Homo sapiens: one gene and its partner. The protein of the gene in region 1 interacts with the protein of each later gene in a biochemical or structural test. Each region holds a gene or a part of one and is shown on either strand. Other genes may lie near its edges. The genes, in order: BRAF and NANOG.

Evidence for each region.
Region 2: of the proteins of BRAF (region 1) and NANOG, one has a biochemical effect on the other in vitro, tested with the Homo sapiens proteins (one study listed by BioGRID).

What each region holds. Positions count from the first base shown.
Region 1 is NC_000007.14:140,732,612-140,736,432, forward strand, and holds part of BRAF (serine/threonine-protein kinase B-raf), read right to left. Parts: intron 2,160-3,821; coding exon 1,986-2,159; 3' UTR 1-1,985. UniProt on the Homo sapiens protein: Protein kinase involved in the transduction of mitogenic signals from the cell membrane to the nucleus. Phosphorylates MAP2K1, and thereby activates the MAP kinase signal transduction pathway. Phosphorylates PFKFB2.
Region 2 is NC_000012.12:7,795,879-7,799,699, forward strand, and holds the end of NANOG (homeobox protein NANOG), read left to right. Parts: 3' UTR 1-3,268; downstream 3,269-3,821. UniProt on the Homo sapiens protein: Transcription regulator involved in inner cell mass and embryonic stem (ES) cells proliferation and self-renewal. Imposes pluripotency on ES cells and prevents their differentiation towards extraembryonic endoderm and trophectoderm lineages.

The DNA of each region.
Region 1 (3,821 bases):
TGGCTCTACAGAGCTTAGCCACACCCATCGCAAAGGAGACTAGTAAAGAAAGAAAGGAAAGGTGTCAGATGCAGATGATGGGAGCCTAGGCAGGATGGCATTGAGAAGAAAAAGAGAGTGAACAATGAAAGGAAGATAACTGTGAGGCAGGTATGCTGGGAAATTATAGAAGGAGCTCTATCAATAAAGAGACCCCTGACCTTGTGCCTCAAAATGGCCAAACATTTGGAGCATTCCACAAAGTCAATTTTGTAAAAACTTTGTTAGTTACATGCTTGCTAGTCTTCTATTTGTGAATGAATAAAACCCTATCTAACAATTACTAATAATCATATATTTAATGCCACTGGAGGATTTAAAAATCATATACTTAGATATTTTCCAATAGTTGTACTTCTTTATTCCTTAGTATCATTTTTAAAAATACGTGAAATGTTCCTTTTCATTTTCTTAACTAAAGTCATGAATCAATTCTGATTCATAATGGCATTACTTATCTTAAGCTACCCAAATGAGGGGTTAAAGATTTGCCGTAATTATTATTGAGTGATTTTCCTGGATGACATCTAAGTATTCAAATAAAGAAAATGTTTCAAAAATTTATTTGTGGGTACTTAAAAACTAAATTATCATTAATTTAAAGTCTTCTCAATTTCCTTCTTTATTGACTTCAAGGAGGCATTTATGCAGATATGTGTTTACTGGAAGAACCTTGATCTATTGGCTACATTTAAAAATCATGACAAAACCAAATTGAGTAAGTGAAGATATAGTTAAGAGGCTGACAGTGAAGCAGAGATGGCCAAATCTTTGATAGGACCACGTGCTGTTGCTTTCTACTTTTGATTCCCTCTGAATCACAGTAAGAATACACTGACCACCACATTACAGTCATTTTCTACACAACAAAGTGTAAGTACTAAAGAACCCTAACAAATACTTCATACCATTGAATGAAAAAAGGAGAAGAGCATTCATTCATCATAAGTAGAATCTTGCTGGGCAAAGAATATAAGGAGGACAGAACATGAGACACAATGATAAGGTGATTGCTAAAATATGCATCATGAGAGGTAAGAATAATCTAATAACAACTTTAAAAAATCTATTACCTGGTGTTTGGCAACCAGAGGTATCTCAAAGAAAAACACACCTAAAAGTTCTCACAGAATTCTGTGAAGATTTTTTGCAGGGGAGAGATTGGGTGTGAAGGGAGCAATGCGTTTGCAACAAAATTTGACTTCTACATGAGCGAGACATCCTTAATGTATTTTAAAAAAAGCTATTTAAAAGAAACTCCAATTTATAACATTTTCCCGCTAAAAATCCGAAGTTAAGACATTTTACTCATGTCAAACGTGCCACTCCTCAGCAATATTTTTGGTCACCTGCACTCAAAATTTATAAAAAGAAACTTAGTTTATTGCTTCAAGGAAATAAAAGACATCCACATTTTCCAAATTGTTATAAAAAGAAATAGTTATAGAAAAATTATTAAGAATAATAATAGAATTATTAAATTCTACTGACTTCCTAAATTAGATCTGTTCAGTTTGCCTTATCTAACCCAGGCTAACCGACTGCCAACTTCTCACCTGCAAACACAGGCATAGGTAGGGTCTTCTTCTGGAGTCCCTAGTGGACATGTGATAGCTGGCAACAAAAGTTGCATGAGAAACTGAAGTTTACTACTTAAAATAACCAAGTGAATGATACAAACCCGGAACAGAAAGTAAAGCCTCTAGAAGAGGCTCTGCCAATTTTTAGCAATGTCTATGTATTTTAACCCTTGGATGTTAAAAATCCAATGTTAAGTATAAATTTTAGTTTGGGGAAAAATTATATCTAGTCTTTAACCACACAAGTGTTCTTTGGTTCACCTTAAAAAAAAAGAGAGTATTTTATTCAATTTAACATATAAGCAAACATATGTTCATTTATTTTCCTTTTGTTGCTACTCTCCTGAACTCTCTCACTCATTTGTTTCAGTGGACAGGAAACGCACCATATCCCCCTGCCTGGATGGGTGTTTTTGGAGAAGCACAAGCATATAGACTAAAATCCTCTGTTTGGAAACCAGCCCGATTCAAGGAGGGTTCTGATGCACTGCGGTGAATTTTTGGCAATGAGCGGGCCAGCAGCTCAATAGAGGCGAGAATCTACAAAAAAAAAAAGAAAAAAAAAAGAAAAAAAAAGAAAAAAGAAAAAAAAAGAAAGAAAGAAAAAGAAAAAACAGAAAGAAGAATGAAAATCTGGGTGGTATAAATCTTTAAGAGTCCCATCACACTTTACAAGAAAGCACCTGAAATCTTACATTGTTTTCAGCATTGTCATAAATGCTTGGGAAAATATTTGTAAATAATTGGTATTTTTTCTTAAGAAGAAACTCTCTCTGTAAATTAAATGGGGAGAGTAATTCTTAGTCAGCTTTTATTTATATTTTAGATCATTTGTTAGTCTTGAAACAGTAAATAATAGAAATTTAAAACCAATTTTATACCTTTTTGTTATAGACCACAAGTCTCTTTTGGGAAGAAGATGGAGTATAAATAAGTAAAGCACTTTATGACTATCTCTAAACAGAATTATCACAGCTACTTGCCCTTTAAAGAAACCTAGCCATGGGAAATGTTTTACATACACCTAATTGAAAGCAGAACCTCACAGACCCAGAGTGCTAGTAGCACATGAGAAGTGACAGGGGACAACCCAAGAGCAAAGATAGGAGAACTCGACAAATAGACCCCAATATATAAAATGCAGAAATTCACAATTTTAAGGCACAAAGAAACAGGTTATAATCCTTGAAGGCATACAGCATGATAATGCATGTTCATAATCATGAAACATGTTTAAAGGGCTTGGCATAATGCCTGGCCTATAATAAGCACTCAATAAAACCTTAGCAGCTATTATTATTACTTTTGTTATTGTCCTGAGATACCAATTTTTTTTTTTTTTTGAAACGGAGTCTCGCTGTTGTCAACCAGGCTGGAGTGCAGTGGCACAATCTCAGCTCACTGCAACCTCCCCCTCCTGGGTTCAAGCGATTCTCCTGCCTCAGCCTCCTGAGTAGCTGGGATTACAGGAGCGCACCACCATGCCCAGCTAAATTTTTGTATTTTTAGCAGAGACAGGGTTTCACCACGTTGGCCAGGCTGGTCTCAAACTCCTGACCTCAGGTGATCTGCCTGCCTCGGCCTCCCAAAGGGCTGGGATTACAGACATGAGCCACCATGCCTGGCTGAAAATTGTTTTTAAAAGTTAAATTTTTTTTAAAAAGTAATCTTTATGATGATTAGTATAAGACAAAGAAGTAAGCAGTTGCAAAAAATTGTAAATTCCAAGTATAACATGCAAATAAAAATTAAAATACTATAGAAATGTATAAAGAGTATAAGGCTCTCAAATCCTGCTCTCCAGGGATAACCACTGTTAGAGTCTATACTTTCTTCTGTACCTTTTTTTTTTTTTTTTGAGATGGAGTCTCACTCTATTGTCCAGGCTGGAGTGCAGTGGCGCGATCTCAGCTCACTGCAACCTCCGCCTCCCAGGTTCAAGCGATTCTCCTGCCTCAGCCTCCCGAGTAGCTGGGATCACAGGCGTGTGCCACCACGCCCGGATAATTTTGTATTTTTAGTAGAGACGGGTATCACCATTTTGCCCAGGCTGGTCTCGAACTCCTAACCTCAACTGATCCACCCACCTTGGCCTCCCAAAGTGCTGGGATTACAGGTGTGAGTCACTGCGCCTGGCCTCTTCAGTACCTTTTTTTATGTATAAAAATACATACATGAAAACAAGGCCCACCTGAACACCAC
Region 2 (3,821 bases), on another chromosome or scaffold:
CCCTAATTTGTTGGTTGTGCTAATCTTTGTAGAAAGAGGTCTCGTATTTGCTGCATCGTAATGACATGAGTACTGCTTTAGTTGGTTTAAGTTCAAATGAATGAAACAACTATTTTTCCTTTAGTTGATTTTACCCTGATTTCACCGAGTGTTTCAATGAGTAAATATACAGCTTAAACATAAATCTTTGTTAAATTTTTGGTTGGGGTGGAGAAGGAAATTAGCTGAGGACACTGCTATCTTAGAAATGCATAGAAATAGCTGAGCGTGGTGGCCTATGCCTGTAGTCCCAGCTATTTGGGAGGCTGAGGCAGGAGAATCGCTTGAACCTGGTAGGTGGAGGTTGTAGTGAGCCAATATCACACCACTGCACTCCAGCTTGGGCGACAAGAGCAAAACTCCCATCTCAAAAATAAATAAATAAATAAGTAAATAAATGAATAATAAATAAATATGCCAGTTTTAGAATGAATGAATAATAAATATGCCAGTTTTAGAAAAAAGGGCACTTACGTGCATTGTACATGTGCATCTACAAATGTAATGGGTTATTTCCGTGTATGAATCTGTAATTGATGCTAACATTTAAAGTTTCATCAGAGGCCTATATGTAAGTAAATTCTAAGGCTAGTTGAAACAGATTTATGTTCTCACCTTAAGAGCAGCTACGCAGGCATCTGTGAATTATACTAATAATCCTTTACTGTCCTTTTCCCATCTTGTGCCTGCCCTAAATGTATCTGATCTGAGAGCACGTCCCTTCACTCTGAAGCAGCATGATGCAGGTTATCAGAGTGGTTTTTTCCAGTCTTTTCTCTCATTATTTCCCCAATTGTCCAATGTTACTAAGACTATCCAGTCTAATTCCAAGTGTTTTTTTTTTGTTTTATTTTGTTTTTTTTTAAGACTGGAGTCTTACTCTGTTGCCCAGGCTGGAGTGTAGTGGAGCGATCTCGGCTCACCGCAACCTCCGCCTCCCGAGTTCAAGTGATTCTCCTGCCTCAGCCTCCCAAGTAGCTGGGACTACAGGGGTGAGCCACCATGCCCAGCTAATTGTATTTTTAGTAGAGACAGGGTTTCACTATGTTGGCCAGGCTGGTCTTGAACTCCTGACCTCATGATCCACCAGCCTTGGCCTCCCAAAGTGTTGGGATTACAGGCGTGAGCCACTGCGCCTGGCCTATCGTTTGTTTTTTTAGACAGTCTCTCTCTATTGCCCAGGCTGGAGTGCAGTGGCACAATCTTGGCTCACTGCAACCTCCGCCTCCTGGGTTCGAGCAATTCTCCTGCGTCAGCCTCCTAAGTAGCTGGGATTACAGGCACCCAACATTACACCCGGCTAATTTTTGGTATTTTTAGTAGAGATGGGGTTTCACCATGTTGGCCAGCCTGGTCTCGAACTCCTGACCTCAGGTGATCCACCTGACTCGGCCTCCCAAAGTGGTGGGATTATAGGTGTGAGCCACCGTGTCTGGGCAATTTTTTTTTTTTTTTTTGAGATGGAACTTCACTTTTGTTACTCAGGCTGGAGCACAATGATGCAATCTCTACTCACTGCAACCTGCACCTCCCAGGTTCAAGTGATTCTCTTGCCTCAGCCTTTCGAGTGGCTGGTATTACAGGGATTTGCCACTATGCCCAGCTAATTCTTTGTATTTAGTAGAGATGGGGTTTCACCGTATTGACCAGGCTGGTCTCGAACTCCTGACCTCAGGTAATCCACCCTCCTCGGTCTCCCAAAGTGCTAGGATTACAGGCATGAGCCACAGTGCCCAGCCTTCTTTTTTATTTTTTTAAGACGGGCTTATTCTGCTGCTCAGACTGGGGCTTAGTGGCACCATTTCACCTCACTGTAGCCTCGACTTCCCGGATTCAAGCAATCCTCCTGCCTGAGTCTCTCAAATAGCCCAGACTATAGGTGCACACCACCATGCCAGCTAACTTTTGTGTTTTTAGGAGAGACGGGGTTTCCCCATGTTGGCCTGGCTAGTCTCAAACTCCTGAGCTCAAGCAGTCTACCAGCCTTGGCCTCCCGAAGTGCTGAGATTACAGGCATGAGTCACCAGCCTAGCCCTGTATTATGTTTTCTGAACTTTTTTTTTTTTAATCACCCAGTATTAATCTTCAACCTCTTGGCAGGTAAGAATTTAGAGATCTATTTGGAATAATCTTTAAAGTAACAATAATAACTACAGTCAAAAGCAGTAAGATTAGTGGGCCAGGTGCCGTGGCTCACACCTGTAATCCCAGCACTTCGGGAGACCAAGGCAGGTGGATCACCTGAGGTCAGGAGTTCAAGTTTAGCATGGCCAATATGGCGAAACCCTGTCTCTACTAAAAATACAGAAATTTGCCAGAGGTCTTGGTTTGCGCCTGTAATCTCAGCTACTTGGAAGGCGGAGGCAGGATAATCACTTGAACCCGGGAGGTTGCAGTGACCCCAGATAATGCCACCCCACTCCAGCCTGGGCGACAGAGCGTCACTGTCTCAAAAATAAACAAAAATAATAGGAGATTAGGCAAAAAGGATAGTACAAGGCTCTCTGTTTAACATTTCTTCCTTTCTCTAGAAAATTTTCCTTTCTTTTCCCAAAAGGAGGTGTGTGTTACTTCCAATGCTATATTTTAGTAGCTTTACCATATTTTAGTTTTTAAAATTCATTATTTTGATTTCTCAGCTTTCATTTTCATTTCAGTTTGTACCTGAAGGAGAGAAGCATGGATTGAATTTGCCTGGGTTTTCCGAATTTCATAATATAAATTTAAAACTCAGAAGTGGGAGGAATACAGGCCTTGATTAGTGAATTTCAAGCTCAGTTCTCGGGGTGAAGGACAAGGTTAATTCTACTCTGAGTAATTCTACCGTTCAGAAAACCTGGTGTGTCTACAGGAAAAAATACAGGCTGTGACTACAAACCTAAAAGTAAAGGCAAACAACTGCCAGACAGAGGCAGGAAAGTGGGGGAGAGCCCTTGGTAAATATTGCATGCCTCCTGGGGCCCCCATGGGCTTTGACTCAAGGGGGAGATGAAGGGAATTTGTTAAAGAAAGAAGTCACTGGGACAGACAAAAGCTTCCGGCACAGGAAGTTAGTTCGACTAAGGATACCGAAATGTAGGAATTTGAATGGGTTCCTGGGTGTGAGGTTGAAGTGAAACTTGATTGAAAAGAAGCTGCTGGTGGTGAGTCTCTCCTTAAGCTATTCCTGGCTTCTGGGTAGTTGGTGTAAACTCTGTGGTCCTTGAATAAAGTGTGCTTGAGAATTTTAGAAGGTTAAGCATCTGAGAAATTACTTCAATGCAGTGGTAGCACTACCTCTGATGATACTACCAAGCAAACTATTAAGAAACAGAAAAGCTCACAGATCAAATTAAGATGCTAGAATCGTATTAAATCAATTAAATACATGGAACAAAACAGGCAAAAAGATGGGATACATTAATCCATTTAGGATAAGGTGCATGTGGAGTAGAAAGGGTAGCAGTGTTTACATGTCCTCTGATAACACTGGCGTAGTCACAAGAGCTAAGGACAAGAACCAAGGGTGAGAATTTGAGATTCAATTAGGGCCAGGGATCTGCAGAACAGATGTACCTGGAACATGGGTGTCAATGTGCTCTTATCAGAGAGACAAAGGGGCAGTTATTCCTGGCCACGAAAGTAGTTCTTGGCTCATTGAGCAGCTATGAAATCTATTTGCAGGCCAGGCATGGTGTCTCAAGCTTATAATCTTAACACTTTGGGAGGCCAAGGTGGGTGGATCACCTGAGGACAGGAGTTCAAGACCAGCCTGGCCAACGTGGCGAAACCCCGTCTCCTAA